Linked DNA regions of Homo sapiens: region 1 is linked to region 2. The links come from fine-mapping of genetic effects on plasma protein levels. A gene starts in region 2. The other region holds a variant in brackets. All regions are shown on one strand. Distances are between the middles of the regions. Region 1 overlaps DCAF1 (DDB1 and CUL4 associated factor 1). Region 2 holds the start of MANF (mesencephalic astrocyte derived neurotrophic factor).

Evidence for each region. PIP is the chance, under the fine-mapping model, that this variant and not a neighbour inherited with it causes the effect. The UK Biobank Pharma Proteomics Project read protein levels with antibody pairs (Olink). The fine-mapping took linkage between variants from a reference panel, not from the people measured, so its PIPs are less certain.
Region 1: its variant is fine-mapped to the plasma level of the MANF protein (UK Biobank, PIP above 0.99).

What each region holds. Positions count from the first base shown.
Region 1 is chr3:51,480,063-51,485,435 of GRCh38, forward strand. DCAF1 (DDB1 and CUL4 associated factor 1) reads right to left here. Exons shown (of 25, transcript NM_001387579.1): 3 at 3,657-3,774. The coding sequence starts at 3,766. Among named protein-coding and RNA genes, the nearest start is that of DCAF1, 17 kb to the right of the region's middle. The variant G/T (reference allele first, on the strand shown) is at 3,229.
Region 2 is chr3:51,382,086-51,387,458 of GRCh38, forward strand. It overlaps MANF (mesencephalic astrocyte derived neurotrophic factor), which reads left to right and starts at 3,206. Exons shown (of 4, transcript NM_006010.6): 1 at 3,206-3,351; 2 at 4,123-4,250. The coding sequence starts at 3,258. It overlaps DOCK3 (dedicator of cytokinesis 3), which reads left to right. Exons shown (of 53, transcript NM_004947.5): 53 at 1-2,113. RefSeq lists an enhancer at 2,622-2,971 and a silencer at 3,032-3,401.

The DNA of each region.
Region 1 (5,373 bases), 98 kb after region 2:
CACTGCACTCTATCCTGGGTAACACAGTGAGACCCTGTCACTAAAAAAAAAAAAAAAAAAAAATTTTTTTTAATGATGGGGAGCCCAAACCTACCTATGAAAGTCAAAGTCAGTGAAGGTTTTACAGACATGATTCTTGAACTACTTCTTCTAAGGACTAGGCCTGCCATGCAGACATGCCAAGGAAAGGCATTTCAGGCCAAAGAAATACCAAGTGTAAAGGCACAAAGACATTAAAAAATACGTTAATCCAGCCGGGCAGGGTGGCTCATGCTTGTAATCCCAGCACTTTGGGAGGCTGAGGTGGGCGGATCATGAGGTCAGGAGTTCGAGACCAGCCTGGCCAACACAGTGAAACCCCATCTCTACTAAAAATTCAAAAATAAGCTGGGCGTGCGTGGTGGTGGGCGCCTGTAATCCCAGCTACTCGGGAGGCTGAGGCAGGAGAATTGCTTGAAGCCAGGAGGCGGAGGTTGCAGTGAGCCAAGATTGTGCCACTGCACTCCAGCCTGGGCGACAGAGCTAGAGTCTGCCTCAAAAAAAAAAAAAAAAAAAAAGTTAATACTTACAGAAAGAGACTAATACTATGAGGGAGAAAAAAGAGGCCATCCTCCTTTTTCTCATCCTGTGGGGCTACTTATGATGTGATGCCATTTACAGTGGGCTGGGATTACAGGTGTGAGGCACCAAACCCAGCACCCCTTGATTTGTTTTAATACTCCTATCATTCATGTGTATGTATTTTAATTTTCTGCCATTATACCACACTATACTAGAACCGTTTTTTTTACACGTGTTTCCTCACTAAATTGTAAAATTCTTGAAAGCACATACTATGTCTTTTTATTGGTGTCTCCTCAAATGATGATCTACCCACTGCCTGGTACTTAATAACTGTGTGGTACATAATTTTATTGAAAAAATCTGTTAAGGTAGAAAGAGTGAAAAGTAAAGGCTGGGTAGAGGTGCTCATGGGTTTTCTAAGGAGAAGGTCACTGGAACGTGGGAATCCTCAACATCCCATCCCCAATATCATAGCTGTGAAAACAACTTTTTATGCATTGATTTCTTACTTTTTACAGCGAAAGAACTACAATATTATGAAAGTAAGCCACATCATAAATGGCCACATAGGCCACACTAAAAACTTTACATTTTACTCTGTAGGAAAAAGGAAGTCGGAGAAGAATGTAGGTATGAATGAAGGTAGGAAAATCCTATTTGTGTATGAGAAAAAGGAATCTTTCAGCAAGGGGGAGGATGTATTAAAAGAGGGTAAACTGGAGGGTAAACTTATAAGGCACACTGCTTAATGGGCCAGTCAAGACATGAGCAATACCTAATGCAGGCCAGGCGCAATGGCTCACTCCTGTAATCCCAGCACTTTGGGAGGCCGAGGTGGGTGGATCACCTGAGGTCAGGAGTTCAAGACCAGCCTGGCCAACATGGCAAAACCCTATCTCTACTAAAAAAAACAGAAAAATTAGCCGAGCATGGTGGCTTATGCCTGTAATCCCAGCTACTCCAGAGGCTCAGGCAGGAGAATCACTTGAACCTAGGAGGTGGGGGTTGCAGTGAGCCAAGATCGCACCACTGCCTGGGGCAGAGAGCAAGACTCCGTCTCAAAAAAAATGAAAGGTAAAATATGCCGGGCACAGTGGCTCACGCCTGTAATCCCAGCACTTTGAGAGGCCGAGGCAGTCAGGTCACTTGAGGTCAGGAGTTCGAGAACAGCCTGGCCAACATGGCAAAACCCCACCTCTACTAAAAATACAAAAATTAGCCAGCGTCGTGGCGGGCACCTGTAATCCCAGCTACTCAGGAGGCTGAGGCAGGGAGAATTGCTTGAACCTGGCAGGTGGAGGTTGTGGTGAGCCAAGATCATGCCAATGCACTCCAGCCTAGGCAACAGAGTGAGACTCCATCCCCCCAAAAAATAAAAACAAAAAAAGTTTTTCAGTTTAAAACCATTCAGTTTAAAACCAAGGTAGGGAATAAAAAAAGCATTAAGTTATGAATAAATGAGGAGACACACAGAAATGAGGATGATAAGCTCAATTTTGGACATGGTCTGTTTCAGGTATCTGTAGAAGAGCCAAGTAGGCCAGCACTGTGGCTTCGCCTGTAATCCCAGCACTTTGGGAGGCCGAGACAGGAGGATTGCTTGAGCCCAGATGTTCAAGACCAGACTGGGTAACACAGGGAGACCCTCCCTCTACAAAAAATTTAAAAATTAGTCAGGTGTGGTGGTGCACACCTGTGGTCTCATCTAGTAGGGAGGCTGAGGTAAGAAGATGGCTTGAGTCCAGGAGATCAAGGCTGCAGTGAGCTGAGATCATGCCACTACAGCCTGGTGACAGAGTGAGACCCTGTCTCCAAAAAAACAGAGCCAGAAGAGCCAGGTAAAGATATATTCACCAGGACGGGCGCAGTGGCTCACACCTGTAATCCCAGCACTTTGGGAGGCCAAGGCAGGTGAATCACCTGAGCTCAGGAGTTCAAGACCAGGCTGGCCAACATGGTGAAACCCCGTCTCTACTAAAAATACAAAAATTAGCCGGGTGTGGTGGCGTGCACCTGTAATCCCAGCTACTCGGGAGGCTGAGGCAGAAGAATAACTTGAACCCGGGAGGCGGAGGTTGCAGTGAGCCGAGATCGTGCCATTGCACTCCAGCCCAGGAGACAGTGCAACACTCCATCTCAAAAAAAAAAAAAAAAAAAAAGATACATTCACCAAACAGTTGGGAAATGAGTCTAATTTTTTTTATTTTTATTTTTTTAATTTAAAAATATGCTGGGCATGGTGGCTCACACCTGTAATCCCAGCACTTTGGGAGGCCAAGGCAGGTGGATCACCTGAGCTCAGGAGCTCAAGACCAGCCTGACCAACATGGTGAAACCCCGTCTCTACTAAAAAGATACAAAAATTAGCTGGGCGTGGTGACAAACGCCTGTAATCCCAGCTACTCAGGAGGCTGAAGCAGGAGAATTGCTTGAACCCAGGAGGCGGAGGTTACAGTAAGCTGAGATCACGCCATTGCACTCTAGCCTGGGCAACAAGAGCAAAACTCCGTATGAAAAAAAAAAAAAAAGCCAGGCTCAGTGGCTCACGCCTGTAATCCTAGCACTTTGGGAGGAGGCCAAGGCGGGTGTATCACCTAAGGTAAGGAGTTCGAGACCAGCCTGATCAACATGGTGAAACCCCGTCTCTACTAAAAAATATAAAAA[G/T]TAGCCGGGCATGGTGGTGGGAGCCTGTAATCCCAGCTACTTGGGAGGCTGAGGCAGGAGAACCCCTTGAACCCAGGAGACGGAGGTTGCAGTGAGCCGAGATCACACCATTGTACTCCAGCCTGGGCAACAAAGCAAAACTCTGACTCAAAAAAAAAAAATTAAATTAAATTAAATAAGAAAATTAAACAGCTTCAGGAAGTAGGGAGATAAAGACTAAATCTGAGGAAAGAAAAAAATTGATTTAGAATTTACAGTCTAGGTGAAAATGTTCCTATGCTATTCTCCACACCAATTTTTGCTTCTTTTTAAACTAGTTTGTGTGTGTGTGTGTGTGTGTGTGTGTGTGTGTGTGTATGAAGAAATCTAGCGTATGAGTTGTGTCCGAGGTTTTTTATTAAACTAGGTTTTAAAAAAGTTATTCATACCTGGTAAGGATAGGTACCATGTCCTGCCCACTGCCATGTTCCTTTTCCCACTGCTCCAGCAGGGTAGTGAGCTCAGCTTTGGAGTCCACATGTACCACTACTGTAGTCATGGCTTTGCCTAAGGAAGCAAAAATAAAAATAAAAAAGACAACCAATAAATGAACACAAGCAAATAAAAGTGAAGAAGGGGTAGAAAAGGACGAGAAGGCAAGAGAAAAAATTAAAAAGGGAAATTTAACCCCTTGAACCCTTTGGATTTATTTGTGGTACAGCAGAAAACTCGGGATACTCATCAAGCCTAGATACCCATTCAGTAGTGATGAACAAGTACTTTCGCCTTTCTCAGCCTCAGCTTCAACTGTCAAATGAGGCAAGAAGCTGGATCAAAACAGTGATTCTTAACCTTTTGAGGAGTCCCTTTGAAAATGAGACAAAAAATATGGTACCTTTCCCTCATCAAAAATGCATTTACCACCAGGCATGGTGGCTCACACCTGTAATCCCAGCACTTTGGGAGGCTGGGGCAGGTGGATCACCTGAGGTCAGGAGTTCGGGACCAGCCTGGCCAACATGATGAAACCCTGTCTCTACTAAAAATACAAAAATTATCTGGACATGGTGGCAGGTGACTGTAATCCCAGCTACTTGGGAGGCTGAGGCAGGAGAATCACTTGAACCTGGGAGGTAGAGGTTGCAGTGAGCCGAGATCACACCATTGCACTCCAGCTTGGGCGACAGAGCAAGACTCCGTCTCAAAAAGAAAAAAAAATAGATTTACCTAATGCCTACCTGTAATATATACAATAATCCCAGGCCTAGATCTCTGAGGTCTAAAACTTTGTGCTTACATTTTTTTAAGCACAAAATGTGGCCAAAACTACTCCCAAAATATTTTGCTCGTTAGTCCTTTGAGGGAAGTTCTATCAAAGATAAACAGCATGGCACACTCCTGTTTAATTTTTTCTTTTTTTTTTTTTTTTTTGAGATGGAGTCTCACTCTGTCACCCAGGCTGGAGTGCAATGGCACAATCTCGGCTCACTGAAACCTCCACCTCTCGGGTTCAAGCAATTCTCCTGCCTCAGCCTCCCGAGTAGCTGGAATTACAGGCGCCCGCCACCATGCCTGGCTAATTTTTGTACATTTAGTAGAGACGCAGTTTCACCACGCTGGCCAGGCTAGTCTCAAACTCCGTTTTTTGTTTTGTTTTTTTTTTGAGACAGAGTTTCACTCTTACTGCCCAGGCTGGAGTGCAATGGCACAATCTCGGCTCACTGCAACCTCTGCCTCCCGGGTTCAAGCAATTCTCCTGCCTCAGCCTCCCAAGTAGCTAGGATTACAGGCATGCACCACCACGCCCAGCTAATTTTTGTATTTTAGTAGAAACAGGGTTTCACCATGTTGGTCAGGCTGATCTCGAACTCCTGACCTCAGGTGATCCACCCGCCTCAGCCTCCCAAAGTGCTGGGATTACAGGCGTGACCCACCGCGCCCAGCTCTGTTAATTCTTAAAGAGAAGGCCAAGAAATGAAATGGACACTACTGCCAGCATGAAAGTGGAGAAGGAACACTATAAAACTCATTTATCCTTCAAGCTTCCTAACCTCTCTCACAGCTGATTTCCTGGAAAGAAGAGGCTAGAAGAGAGGCAGAGAAGGTTGGCTGGGTTGAGTGGTTCAAACTAGGAATGCAGAAGGGCAGGGAGCTGAGGTGAGCTTT
Region 2 (5,373 bases):
AATGCCTGCCCACCTGCCCCTCTTCCATCCAGGAGTGTGCTACTGAGGGGCTGGCTGGACCAACCTGCTGGCTCAGGCATGTGACTGGCCTAACTGCATGCCCAGGGCACTGCCAGGGTTCAATGGGCCAGCCGTCTCCTACTCCACCTTGGATTTTTCTCTCCATCACATCATTTCTGACCATTTGCTCCCTTCCATTCTTGAAACACCTCATGCCCCACAGGAGCCCCAGTGGTGACTGGATCTGCAAGGGTTATCTCCCGCCCTCTGGGGTTTGAGTGGAGGTATGGAGCCAGAGAGGCTATCCTAGCTACCTTCCTCCTAGGGGGAGCTGGTCCCCTTCCTATGTGGTAGAGAGACTGGTGTAAGAGTGTGGGGTGTGGCAGGCGCCGGAAATCCTCAAAGCTTTCAGAAGCATCCAGAATGCCTACCATCAGCTCCTGAATCAGGGATTTTCAGCACTACCTCTGAGCCATGGGGTTGGCTGCCCAGCCAGGCTTCCAGGCCCTGAGGACATGTGGTCAGGTTCAGCAGGCTCCTGGGTAAAGAGGGTGGGAGGGGGCTTCTCCTTTTGGAAGCAGATAGCCATGCAGGTAGAATTGTCATCTCCCAAGTGGCCACATACAGCAACCCACTCCAGGCCATGGGGACCACCACTCAGGGTTCGGGGCTGGCAGGAGGGTAGTTTCTCCAGTCTCCCCAGTCTGTTGGTGTCTTTATAGGAAACTATAAAGCAGAGCAGTGGTGTCTTTAGAGGAAACTCATTCAAGTCAGGGCACTGATTTTCCTCTCAGTTTATTATTTGGGGGGATAGGGTCAGGTGGGTATAGTAGTACTTTACCAGGGTGCTTTTAAGTTACTTTAAAAAAAGCCTACAAAATATTTTTTTTCTTTTATTTGCTCGAGTTCACATTAATGATGGTCACAAGGCTGCCTTGTTGGGCAGGCGTATTGCCCCCAGTTCCTCTTCTGCTGGCCTGTATGACCTCCACAGCCAGGCCCTGGGCCCAAGCCCCTTGTCCCTTCTCCACTGCCCCTCTTTCCAGACAGTAAAGGCCATGGTCAGTGTGTTTTTCTCTTGTAAACAAACCCCAGCTTGTTTAACAGAAATGCTAATAACCTACTGGGAAAGATGGAGGTCTAAATTACCTCCAGGGTTTTTCTGGGGGTTTATCACCAGTGTGGGTCCCTTCTGATACCACCAGGTTCACTCCAGGCAGAGTGGGGCGGAAGGCTGCTGAGGATATGGGTCAGTTACAGCAGCCCTCACCTCAAAGGGCTGGCCTGCTTCTCAGCCTACATTCATTTGCAAGCTTCAATCTCTGGACCATCTGGTGTTCACAGGTGTTAGAGGGTTAGGGGTTAGGGGCTAGTTTTGGATTTGATTCATAGGTAGGAGGGCTTAGATTTTAAGGCACTTCTGAAAGTCAATCCCTGGACAAGGCAGTCATCACATAAGAACAGCTACCTTCTCCACTTGGTGGCACAAGAGGTAGGGAGGGGAGTATGGGTTCATTTGGCTTCGCATTATGCAAGGTGAAACCGTTTGTTTTCCCTCTCCATTTTCCCTAACTAAATGAAAAGGACACATTCTGAAATCCCTTTTGTTGGAGAATAAGTCAGTCTGAGGGGAAATGGGAGGCCAGAGATGAGAACCCTTTGAAAAGATTGTAAAATACTGATTTTCATTCTTTCAAGCTTATTTGTAAATACCTATTTGAATGCTGTGTATTTGTACAGGAATTTGAGCAAAAAATGTATAGAGTGTGATGTCCAATTGGTATTCAGCACTATAAATGTGTTTTTAACCTCCCGCATTCTGTGCTTATTTAAAACAAGGAAACTTCTAACCATTTCTTTTGTGTATTCATGTTTAAAGAAAAAAAGTGATTTAAAAATGATCTTACCTGTACCAGAAAAGCAAAGTTAAAGGAAACAAAATTTGTACCATTGTCCCAAGAGGTATTTTACTGTATATATTGTGGTAGCATGTTCAAAATCCAACAAGTAATGTGAATTTTAGATGTAAATATCTGCCACTTGATTTTTTTTCCCCCTTTCCCCACTTCCTTGACTGCTGTGATGTGAATTAAAGATAAATACGTGATACTGATCCACTGAATTCACTGAATGGGAGCAGAGGATGTGCCCCTCTCCAACCCTTGTCGCCGGGCTCCAAGCCCTTTTTAGCCCTATAGACATGTCCTTTTTGCACTGAGTAGAGCCAACGGTTCCCGCATCCTGCCTTGAAGGCAGGCAGCCAGGAGGGCACTTGAAAGGAGGGCAGTCGAAAAGGAAACATCCTCCAGTGCTTCTCTGGTGATTCCCGGGACCCCACTCAGGAGGTCCCACGGCAGCGGGGGACCCCGAGGGCCTAGCCGGGGAGGCAGGAGGAGGCTGGCCAGCCACCAAGCCACGATTCAGAGCTTGTAAGGGCACCTCCCGAGCCCCTCACCTTCCCACTCTGAGGCGACCCCATGTCCTCGACCGATGATCTGGCCCGGGCGCTTCCCTCCACGGTCTAGAGTGGCGGCCCAGCTTTGAGCTTGGCGCGCCTTGAGCCCTTCCTTCAGATGTCCCGCAGTCCGTCCACCCCGCACGTCTCCTATCAGCCTATGCACGGCGGGCTCCGGTCAGGTGGAGGATCAGCAGGTGGGCTTTCAAAGGTTGGATCCGTTGCCCACGCGAATGAAAGAAGAAAAAAGAAACCTCTTTGAGCCTTGCCTGCGGCCGCCCGCCCTTCCTGCCTAACCTGTTGTCTTGGCTGACCCCAGAACTCCTGCACCACGAGTCGGAGTCCGGGCGAGGAGATCAGCAGGGGTTTTCGAGGGAGCCTGGGGCCCAGGGCAGGGGTACGCGGGTCAACTCAACAGATGTAAGGCGTGGCCGAACCCCATTCAGCTAGCAGTACCCAGCCTCAGCCACAGTCGCTGCCCTTACCCAAGATGGCGGCCCACACCGCTTCCGTCGCTGCTGTAGTCGCTTCCTGCGGCCAGCCCGGGTTCAATCAGCGGCCGACAACTGTCTAGGGCTCAGACACCACCAGCCAATGAGGGAGGGCAGCGTGGAGCCGCCCGTCTGGGCTCGCGGCTCCTGGACCAATGGGGAAGTGGCATGTGGGAGGGCGCCGGGGGGCCCCCCGCCAATGGGGAGCTACGGCGCGCGGCCGGGACTTGGAGGCGGTGCGGCGCGGCGGGTGCGGTTCAGTCGGTCGGCGGCGGCAGCGGAGGAGGAGGAGGAGGAGGAGGATGAGGAGGATGAGGAGGATGTGGGCCACGCAGGGGCTGGCGGTGGCGCTGGCTCTGAGCGTGCTGCCGGGCAGCCGGGCGCTGCGGCCGGGCGACTGCGAAGGTGCGGGATAGGGGGCCGGGGGCCGCGCTCCGTGACCGTTCTGGCGGCGGCGCTGAACCCCACAACATCACCAGACGGCCGGGGCCAAGAGGGCGAGGGCGGGGGCGGGGGCGGGGGCGACAGCAGGTCCCCGCGGGGCCTGCATGAGGAGGCTCCGGCGCCCGCCCTAGTAAATCTTTCTTGGGCCTAGAAAACATTGGTCCGACGAAGAAAAGTTGAGACTAGATCCCGTTGAAAACTTGTCCTGAAATCTCCATCACTCCTGAGTTATTGTCCCCACCACCATCTAGAGGTTACCGCTCCCCGTTCGGCGTCGGGAGCTCCAGGGCTGGCCGTGGGTGCTGCGCCCTGTCTGTTGGGATCACGAAGCTGCACCTCTGGGTCCGCTGTTGTATTTGGAAATTAGCAGCAGCATTTTGATCATTTTTCTCTTCACCTTCCAGTCTCTCCATTTATGAGGTCACAGTGAGTCCCGTCTCAAGGACACGTGTTCACCATGGGCTTAAACTTGATGAAAGGAGCAGGGAGAAGTCGTTTATAGGTCATTGGGTGATGCTTGGTCCTTTGATGCCCTGGGTGTACCAGGGGACCCCCGCCACTTGGAACCGGGTTCTGTCTACCTGTAGACACCTGAGAAAAATCGGTGATGGAAAAGCTCACCTCTAATGATTCATCTCCGTGTCTCCTATTAAAATTGCTGGCGGAGTTCTTTTCTGGTGGATTGGAACAGCTTGGTGATTGCTGAGCATCTCCCGTCCCTCTCTTTTCCAGTTTGTATTTCTTATCTGGGAAGATTTTACCAGGACCTCAAAGACAGAGATGTCACATTCTCACCAGCCACTATTGAAAACGAACTTATAAAGTTCTGCCGGGAAGCAAGAGGCAAAGAGAATCGGTTGGTAAGTAGCTGGTGATCCTCCCCAACTGGCCCTGGCTCATGTTAACCCTCGGCTTCACCAGCCGTTTGATAAAAGGCCTTGCCCACCTCTCTGTTCAGGAAGCCAGCTACTCTCTCCATAAACTAATGTGAGAAGACTGAAGTGCTTCTATGTCCTTCCCAAAGCAGCATGTGTTCTGCAACTGTGATTTTTTTTTATCCTGTTAGTCTTTATTAAGCACCTACTATGTGCTAGGCACTGGGAATATCAGGGGAAAGAAGTGACAGTCGGACACACAAATAATGCAATGTCTGGGTGTCATGAAGAAAATGGACCAGCAGGTGCTGATTTAGAGTGGCCAAGAAGTCTCTGAGGAAGGGTTATCATTGAAGTGGGGTAAGACCATCCCATACAGGGAACAGCAGTGTGAGTGCCCAGAGGCCTGAAAGAGTGTGGCATGTATGTGGACAGGAGAAGGTGACAGGGTGCCTACAGGATAGGCAAGGGCCGAATCCAAGACAAAAGCCCTAGTGAAGCAATGGGTTTTCTAACTTGAATTTCTCTGACAGTCTCTGGCTTTTCTCTCTGTTAAAGGTTTGAACCCTGGTGACACTTAAATTCATTTGGTGGCTGTCAGCTTGGACTGAGCATGTGTTAAGAGTCCAGGGTTTACACTGGCTGAATCTGACTACCAGTACAGGCAGGGCACCGAAAAATGCCGCTGTGGGCCAGGTGCGGTGGCTCATGCCTGTCTTCCTAGCACTTTGGGAGGCCAAGGTGGGAGGATTGCTTGAACTTAGGAGTTTGAGATCAGCCTGGGCAAAGTGGTGAAATCCTGTCTGCACAAAAAAATTTTTAGGCTAGGCGTGGTGGCTCACACCTGTAATCTCAGCACTTTGGGAGACCGAGGTGGGTGGATCACCTGAGGTCAGGAGTTCAAGACCAGCCTGGCCAACATGGCAAAACTCTATCTCTACTAAAAAATACAAAAATTAGCCAGGCATGGTGACAGGCGCCTGTAATCCCAGCTGCTCAGGAGGCTGAGGCAGGGAGAATTGCTTGAACCTGGGAGGCGGAGGTTGCAGTGAGCCGAGCCAAGATTGCGCCACTGCACTCCAGCCTGGGTGACAGAGCAAAACTTTAT